Linked DNA regions of Homo sapiens: region 2 is linked to region 1. The links come from fine-mapping of genetic effects on gene expression. Tissue or cell type: whole blood. Region 1 holds a variant in brackets; the other region holds the start of a gene. All regions are shown on one strand. Distances are between the middles of the regions.

The links. PIP is the estimated chance that this variant, and not a neighbour inherited with it, causes the effect.
Region 2: it holds the start of PPP2R1A, and the variant in region 1 is the best candidate, but not a certain one, in a credible set for the expression of PPP2R1A in whole blood (TOPMed, PIP 0.65).

The regions. Positions count from the first base shown.
Region 1 is chr19:52,211,847-52,216,229 of GRCh38, forward strand. PPP2R1A (protein phosphatase 2 scaffold subunit Aalpha) reads left to right here. Exons shown (of 15, transcript NM_014225.6): 5 at 840-987; 6 at 1,109-1,264; 7 at 3,933-4,047; 8 at 4,158-4,228. Among named protein-coding and RNA genes, the nearest start is that of MIR6801, 8.0 kb to the right of the region's middle. The variant T/C (reference allele first, on the strand shown) is at 2,133.
Region 2 is chr19:52,187,324-52,191,706 of GRCh38, forward strand. It overlaps PPP2R1A (protein phosphatase 2 scaffold subunit Aalpha), which reads left to right and starts at 2,729. Exons shown (of 15, transcript NM_014225.6): 1 at 2,729-2,851. The coding sequence starts at 2,774. RefSeq lists enhancers at 1,319-2,286, 1,935-2,064, 2,095-2,144, 2,155-2,374, 2,287-3,254 and 1 more.

The DNA of each region.
Region 1 (4,383 bases):
CCCAGGTCCAGTGCCTTTGGCAGATAAACCACCTCAGTTTTCAGCCTCCTGCTCGTCTACTTTGCAAACGATTGACCGTCAAGCCCGGGTTTGAGCCTGACTCACTCCAGAACTCTGGTTTATGGCTGTACACTTGCTTAGATACTTACACTGGCCCCCACCGCCTTTGATCGAAGCAATTGCTGCTGAAAAATAAAGCCTTTCTGTGGCTCTAGACCTGCCTCTTAGTTAAGCAGTTTTTTGTTTGTTTGTTTTTTGAGATAGGATCTCGCTCTGTCATCCAGGCTGAAGTGCACTGGTGCAGTCATAGCCCACTGCAGCCTCAACCTCCTGGGCTCAAGCATTCCTCCTGCCTTAGCCTCTCAAATAGCTGGGACCACAGGTGTGCAACACCACGCTGGGCTCATTTTTTATTTTTGGCAGAGATGGGGTCTCACTATGTTGCTCAGGCTGGTCTTGAACTCCTGGGCTCAAGCAATCCTCCTGCCTTGGTCTTCCAAAGTGTTCAGATTACAGGTATGAGCCACTGTGCCTGGCTCGTTGGTTAAGCAATTTTTATGGGAATGATGTAATCGTCAGCACTTAGCATTGACTAGATTTATTATGCGCAATCTGCGAAGTGTCTCACACACACTATTTTCATTTAAACCTCATGCGGACCTGTGGGGTAGGTACTGTTACTATCAGCTCCGTTTCATAGGGCTGGGAAGACAGAGAGGGGGTCATCACTTGCCCAAGGTCATTCAGCTAAAACCTGGACCCACACAACTGCAGAGTCTGTGCTTGCTCCTCTCTGCCATACTGCCTGCTGCCTCAGGATCCCCGTCCCCGACTCCCAGGTACTTCCGGAACCTGTGCTCAGATGACACCCCCATGGTGCGGCGGGCCGCAGCCTCCAAGCTGGGGGAGTTTGCCAAGGTGCTGGAGCTGGACAACGTCAAGAGTGAGATCATCCCCATGTTCTCCAACCTGGCCTCTGACGAGCAGGTGAGTTTTGCTTCCTGGCCCTCTGCTCTCCCGTCCTTCTGGTGGTTCCTGCCCATGAAAGAGAATCCCAGAGCTCAGCAAGGCCTCTGCTGCCCTCCCACTGTTCCTCTCCTCTCCCTAGGACTCGGTGCGGCTGCTGGCGGTGGAGGCGTGCGTGAACATCGCCCAGCTTCTGCCCCAGGAGGATCTGGAGGCCCTGGTGATGCCCACTCTGCGCCAGGCCGCTGAAGACAAGTCCTGGCGCGTCCGCTACATGGTGGCTGACAAGTTCACAGAGGTAGATGAGCGACCGTTGACATTGTCCCACTGGTGGGGACACTGACACTCTCAGAAGGGAAGCATATAGGAGCTGAGGTTTCCATTAGGCCGATGGAACCATTGGGCGTTTGAGCAATAAGATCTCTATGATCATCTAACTGCGTCTCGCTTCGTGTGCCAATCCTGGTTGATTGACATGGCATCTTAAAGTGCTGCCTTGAGAAAGATTCTGAGGCAAAGTTAAGGCTACGTGGAGGAAAGTGCCACAGGAGCAGAGAAGGGTAGCACATGTGGGGTGTTCCTGACATAATCAAGCTGTCCTTTCACAAAGGGGAAGACAGCCCAAAAAGGTGGGGTTTTTTGGTGTTTTTTTTTTTTTTTTTTTTTTTTTTTTTTAAGATGGAGTCTGTCGCCCAGGCTAGAGTCTTGTTACCCAGCTGGAGTGTGGTGGCGCAATCTTGGCTCACTGCAGCCTGTCCCTCCCGGGTGCAGGCATTTCTCCTGCCTCAGCCTCCTGAGGGACTGGGATTACAGATGCCCACCACGACACCCGGCTAGTTTTTGTATTTTTATTAGAGACGGGGTTTCACCATGTTGTTAGCCAGGCTAGTCTCGAACTCCTGACCTCAAGCGATCCGCCTGCCTTCATCTCCCAAAGTGCTGGGATTACAGGTGTTAGCCACCGCGCCCAGCCCCGGAAAGTTTAATTAACTGATCAGAGTGACACTACCAGCCAGGCAGAAAGGGGACAAGACTCCAGGTCTGTGACTCTCAGGACAGTGCTCCTTCCACAGGGATCCAGATTGCCTCATCCCACAAACATGTTTGCTGAGCACCAGCTATTTGCTGGGCCAGTGAATTCGGATCATTCCTGGCCTTCATGGAGC[T/C]AGGCAGTCTGAAGGGGAAGACTGACTTAGGGGAAATTTGATTATAAAGTGTCACAGGTGTGGGACAGACAGACAGATGTGGGGCCTTGGAAGCATTGAGGAGGGGAGGTGGTGTTACAGCTGGTTCTAGAAGATGAGTGGGTAAGAGCTAAGATAGGAACTTTGTTCCAGCCAGAGGACAAAGAACCCTGGGAGGTGAGAGCAAGTGCAAGCAGGAACATTCAGGCCTGATCTTGATGGCCCAGCCTGAGAGAAAGCAGGAGAGAGGGCAGGGTGGGATCGGAGAGAGGGCAGGGTGGGATCAGAGAGGCCTTGAGTGCCACTCCACCCTGAGGCGCCCTTTGCCTTTAATTATGCTGGTTCCCACTGGCATTTGCGGGAAGGACTCAGAGCTTCAGAATAGCGTACCATCACCACAGTTAGGGAAGGTTCTTCCCATCCTTGTCTCCTGAGCTGCATAAACTGTGTCACACTGGGTCTTAGAATAAAAATTCCATGAGGGCAGGAATTTTAGGCTGTTAAACCAGTTCTTGGCACATAGTAGACATTCAGTAAATATTTGCAAGATGAATAAAAGGCAGTATTTTCCCAAGATATCATGAGGTCCTTCAAGATTTTTACTTGTTCATTCCCGTCTTCATAATGAACTGTCCTGCTTCCTACCAGGTCTTCAGGAACCAGCTTTGCAGCAGGAGCCGTGCGTCTTTCCATGCCTGGTGCCATGAAACAGGCAGGGCCAAGCGTGCCTCCCTTTTTTTTTTTTTTTAAGACAGAGTCTCAGTCTTTTGCCCAGGCTGGAGTACGGTGGCACAAGCTCAGCTGACTGCAACCTCCACCTCCCAGACTCAAGTGATTCTCGTGCCTTAGCCTCCTGAGTAGCTGGAATTACAGGTGTGCACCACCACACCCAGCTAATTTTGTATTTTTAGTAGAGATGGGGTTTCACCATGTTGGCCAGGCTGGTCTCGAATTCCTGGCCTCAAGTGATCCACCCACCTCTGTCTCCCAAAGCGCTGGGATTACAGGTGTAAGCCACTACGCCCAGCCCTAGAGTGCCTTCCTTTCTGTCAATCTTTATTGTTTTATTTTTATTTTGAGACAGGGTCTCACACCATCACCCAGGCTGGAGTGCAGTGGCACAGTCACGGCTCACTGCAGCCTTGACCTCCTGGGCTCAGGTGATCCTCCCACTTCAGCCTTCTGAGTAGCTAGGACGATAGGTGCCTGCCCCCACACCCGGCTAATTGTTTTGTTTTTTTTGTAGAGTCAGGGTTTCACTGTGTTGCCCGGGCTGGTCTTGTTCTCTGGGACTCAAGCGATCTGTCCACCTCAGCTTCCCAAAGTGCTGGGATTATAGGCATGAGCCATCGCACTTGGCCTATTGTTTTATTTTCATTACAAAAGTAATTCGTGCTTCTGGTAACAGATCTTTAAGAAATACAGCCATATATAAATCAAAAAGTTGCAGTCACTATATCATTTGAATGTTTTTGAATCAGGTAACAGAAAACTTAACCTCAGTAGCCTGAATAATATGGAAATGTGTTATTTTTAATGCTGACAACACCGTGAGGTAGGTGCCCTCGCAGTCCTCATTTTTCTTTGGAAGCAAAAGAGGCTCAGCGAGGTGAAGAGCCTTGCCCCGGGGCCAGTCTTGGCACTCGAATTAGATTTTAGCACTGCTTCCAAGGCCCACGCTCTGTCCCCTAATTCTGGTGCCTTCACTTTGATTTTGGCTTCCTTAGCCCAGAGTAAACTGCCAGCCCCTCTCACTCTCCCCCTCCTCCTTCCTGTCTGCAGCTCCAGAAAGCAGTGGGGCCTGAGATCACCAAGACAGACCTGGTCCCTGCCTTCCAGAACCTGATGAAAGACTGTGAGGCCGAGGTGAGGGCCGCAGCCTCCCACAAGGTCAAAGGTTGGTGCTGGCAGCCGGAACACAGCAAGTGGGGTGGGTATCCAAGGGGCTGGAGGTGGAACTAGCACATCAGGTCTCACTTCCCTTTGCCTCCCTCTCCCTGCCCACAGAGTTCTGTGAAAACCTCTCAGCTGACTGTCGGGAGAATGTGATCATGTCCCAGATCTTGCCCTGCATCAAGGTAACAGAGAGTTTGATGGGAGGAACCAAGTGGATCCGAGCCTGCCAAAAAGAGGGGCTGGAGACAAGGCTTTGGGGATAGTCAGCTGCAAACTAGGTTCCCAGCCCTCTGGGACCAGGCAGCTCTTGGGTTTCAAGCAGTTAGGGGTCCTGACT
Region 2 (4,383 bases), 25 kb before region 1:
CTCCCAGCCTAGGCAACAAGGCAAGACCCTGTCTCAAACAAACAAACAAATTCCAGCACCACTATTACCATCTATGAGAACTTGGACAAATTCCTAAAGTTCTCTATGCCTCGGTTTCCTCATCCATTAAATTAGGATGATGCTGCTACTTTACATATATCATAGAGTTATTGTCAGGGTTAAATGAATTAATTTACTGAATACACTTTACTGTAGCTATTATCACTGGCATTGATCTGTATAGGTATTGATTTGTATAGGTATTGATCTGTATAGGTATTGATCTGTATAGGTATTGATCTGTATAGGTATTGATTTGTATAGGTATTTGTTAAATACTTATTAAAGTTTGCAGTTTTGTTTTGCATTTTGGAATCCATAATTTGTTTTTATTTTGTTTCTGAGATTTATAATGCCTCATTTAAGCCTCTGAAAATTCCTAGGCCCTAAGCACTTCAAAGGCCACCAGCCCAACATCCCAAGCAGCCTGACACCAAGACAGGCACGCATAGCTAAAAAGATCCCTAGCCTCAGAGACCTTGGGGCTGAGAGGAGTCCTGGGAATAGGGAGGGCTGGGACTGAAATATTCAACCCCATCCCCACTTTTATGAGCAGCAGTTTCCTAACTGCAGTGGGTAAGGGTATTTGAAATAGATGCTGGGCCGGGCACGGTGGCTCACACCTGTAATCCCAGCGCTCTGGGAAGTCCAAGTGGGCGGATCACCTGAGGTCAGGAGTTCGAGACCAAAGACAGCCAACACGGTGAAACCCCGTCTCTACTAAAAATACAAAATTAGCCGGGCGTGGTGGCTCATGCCTGTAAATTCCAGCTACTCCGGAGGCTGAGGCAGAAGAATCGCTTGAACCCGAGAGGTGGAGGTTGCAGTGAGCAGAGATTGAGCCACTGCACTTCAGCCGGGGCAACAAGAGCGAAACTCCGCCTCAAAAAAAAGGCCGGGTGCGGTGGCTCACACCTGTAATCCCAGCACTTTGGGAAGCCAAGGCAGGCAGATCACCCTGAGGTCAGGAGTTTGAGACCAGCCTGGCCCAAAGTGGTGAAACCCCGTCTCTACTAAAAATACAAAAATTAACCGGGCGTTGTGGTAGGCGCCTGTAATCCCAGGTACTCTGGAGGCTGAGACAGGATAATTGTTTGAACCCAGGAGACAGAGGCTGTAGTATGCCGAGATCGGGCCCCTGCATTCTAGCCTGGGCAACAGAGCGAGACTCCGTCTCAAAAAAAAAAAAAGAAAAAGAAAAAGAAGAAAAAAGAAATAGATGCTGTGGGTATTCAGATCTGTCAGAGTGCTAGCTCAGCCTAGCCCTTCAAGTAGCAGAATAAAGGAGGAAAGAGCATCCCAGGCCTTCCCATCCCCATTCAACTCCCTCAGTTAGAGTGGTCCTAAGATTGCGGTGGGGGGGTAGGGCTGTGTTGAAGAGGTTAAAAACAGAGATTAGTCAGATCCAATCCTGCTCCCACTCTATGGAGGAAACAAATTCGAATACATAGTCACAGCCCAGGCTCTGGGATTGAGAGACAGAGAGAGAGATTGGATTGGAGAGAGAGAGAGAGAGAGATGGGATTGGAGAGACAGAGAGATAGATGGGACTGGAGAGACAGAGAGAGGGGTTCTGTGGCTCTGGAAGCCTAGAGAACAGAGCCTGAAGACAGAGAGGAAAGGGAGTAAAGGGGAGGCATTTATGCAGAGATCTCAGAAGTGAATATGAAAGGCACCCCTAGCAGAACGCACAGCTTGGGCAAGGAGGCTTGCTGGCATGAAAACGCAAGAAGTGCTCAGGCAGCTGTAATTCTCCAGGACATCAGATAAAAGGTAAAAAACAGATGGGAGACGCGCCTAGACAGGGTATTGAATACCAGCCCGAGGGGCTTGGGTTTCATCCAAACAGCAAGGCAACTGAGCTCAACACAGTGAGACTCGGTCTCCACAAACATTTTTTTAAAAATTGGCCGGGCCTAGCGGCGCGCGCCGATAGTCCCAGCTATTTCTGCAGGCTGAGGCGAGAGGATCATTTGAGCTCGGGGAGGTCCAGGCGGCAGTGAGCCAAGATCCTGCCACTGCACTACAGTCTGGGCAACAGAGCGAGACCCTGTCTTTAAAAAAGTAAAAAAAAAAAAAAAAAAAAAAGAAAGAAAAAGAAAAAAGAGAGAAGGGCAAGTCGCTCCCTTCTCTGGGCCTTGGCATAAATCAAGCACAAATCAAAGTCTCACTCCCTCCTCCTGCCGCGCAACGGCGCGGAGAGCCAGCCAGCCAGCCAGCGGAACCACGGCCTGGTAACCCAAAACCTGCACACCCTCCAGCTCCCCACAGGACGTCACGTATTACCACCGACGCACGCGCAGAAGCCTTCCCGGGGACTCAAGAAAGGGCAGGCTTAGCCTCCTCCCCATGTCGCCCCTCATTGGCTAGAAACTACTGCTCGTCTCGGTCGTTGTTAGCAGCGACCAGGGCGGGTACAATCTTGGTCGCTAGGACACGGCTAACTTCCGCTTTCTTCCCCCTCTCCTAGGCTCAAACTAGTCAAATCTTGTTCACTCGACCAATGGCAAATCGGAAGTGGGCGGGACTTCACAAGTCCGGACCAAAGAAACGCGAGCTTAGCCCTGGGTAGCGCGGCCAATGGCCGTGGAGCAGCCCCTGTAAACTGGCTCGGGCGCCCCCACGCCCGCCCTTCCTTCTTCTCCCAGCATTGCCCCCCCCACGTTTCAGCACAGCGCTGGCCGCAGTCTGACAGGAAAGGGACGGAGCCAAGATGGCGGCGGCCGACGGCGACGACTCGCTGTACCCCATCGCGGTGCTCATAGACGAACTCCGCAATGAGGACGTTCAGGTCCGGAGGCTACGGGGGACTTGGGGAAGACGCGGAGGGGTACCTGGGGGCACGGGCGGCCCTCGCGGAGAAGACTCAGCGTTCGCTGGGAGTGGCGGAAGGGGGCGACGGCCAATCAGCGTGCGTCTCTTATCTCCCCGGTTGCCCGGACTCCTTGAGACGGCGCTCCCGATTGGGTGTCGGCCCAGTGGAGGGCGGGGGCCAGCGCTAGCCTCGAGGGTCCCGGGCCTGCCCTGTGCGCGCGGCGGTCCGCGGTCCTGGGAGGTTGTGGCCAGGGCTGGGGTCTGCGGACTGGGTCTGGGAGAGAGGAGGACTCCGTGATTGGCGGCGGCCTCTGAATGGCCTCTTGGGGATGTGGGGCGCGCATGACTTGCTCCAAGTAGGGGAGGGCCGCCGGGTGGGTCGGGACCTGGGAAGGTTTTTTTGTTTTCTGGGTTTCGACTGCTGGGCCAAGTGGGGACCGAGAGGCGAAGGCCTGCCATCCTAATTCCTGCTCTTCCTCCGCCTCTCATTTTGGTTTAGGTGTCCTAAGAGGACGGGGACGCAAAAACACCCCCCCACCAAAGGTGGGGACTAGCCAAGTTTAGGAGCGAATTAGGTTGTAGAAACCCGCCTCCCCATCTCCCCGGATCCTCCCATTGACCAGGATAGGGGTTGAGGGATTTGCTAAGCAGATGAACATTTATTTATTTCTTTTTTTTGAGACAGTCTCTGTGTCGCCCAGGCTGGGGCTGGGGAGCAGTGGCGCGATCTCGGCTCAGTGCAACCTCTGCATACCGGGTTCAAACCATCCTCGCCCCTCAGCTCCCTAATTAGCTGCGATTACCGGCGCGAGCCACCACGCCCGACTAATTTTTGTATTTTTAGCAGAGACGGGGTTTCACCATGTTGGCCAGGCTTGGTCGGGAACTCTTGACCTCAAGCGATCCACCCGCCTCGGCCTCCCAAAGTGTTGGAATTACAGGCGTGAGCCACCGCGCCCAGCCCGGATGAACATTCCTGGTTATGGGATGAGGTGACCCAAGGCTCTGAGCCGGGCTGGTGTGGGATTGAGAACAGTTAGAACTGCAAGTCCACCTCCCACCTGCTGTGTGACCTTGTGCAAATTACTTCACCGCTTTGGGTCTCTGTGTTCCATAAAATATGGGCTAATTGTAGTCCTGGTCTTGCTGGAGGGACTTGTGAGGGACTGAACGAATTATGACACAAATAAAAAGTAGAATGGTGTCAGGCCTGTTGTAAGGGCTCGATAAATATTAGCTGTAATTATTGGGAGTGGTGATTAAAGAGGTCCCATCCTCCCTTTAGGTCTGTTTTCCCATTTATAAAATTGGACAAGGTGCACTGGGTAACCTGCCAAACGTGGGTCTCGCCTCCTAGGTTCCTGGTATATCACTGTTTCTGGTGGCATACAGGTTGTGGTTGTATTCCCGGCCCTTCCACTTGTTACTGATTGACAAGGGCAAGTTAGTTAATCTCTCTAGGCCTGTTTCCTCTTCTCTTTAATGGGGTTAATTACCTAGTTCATAGGG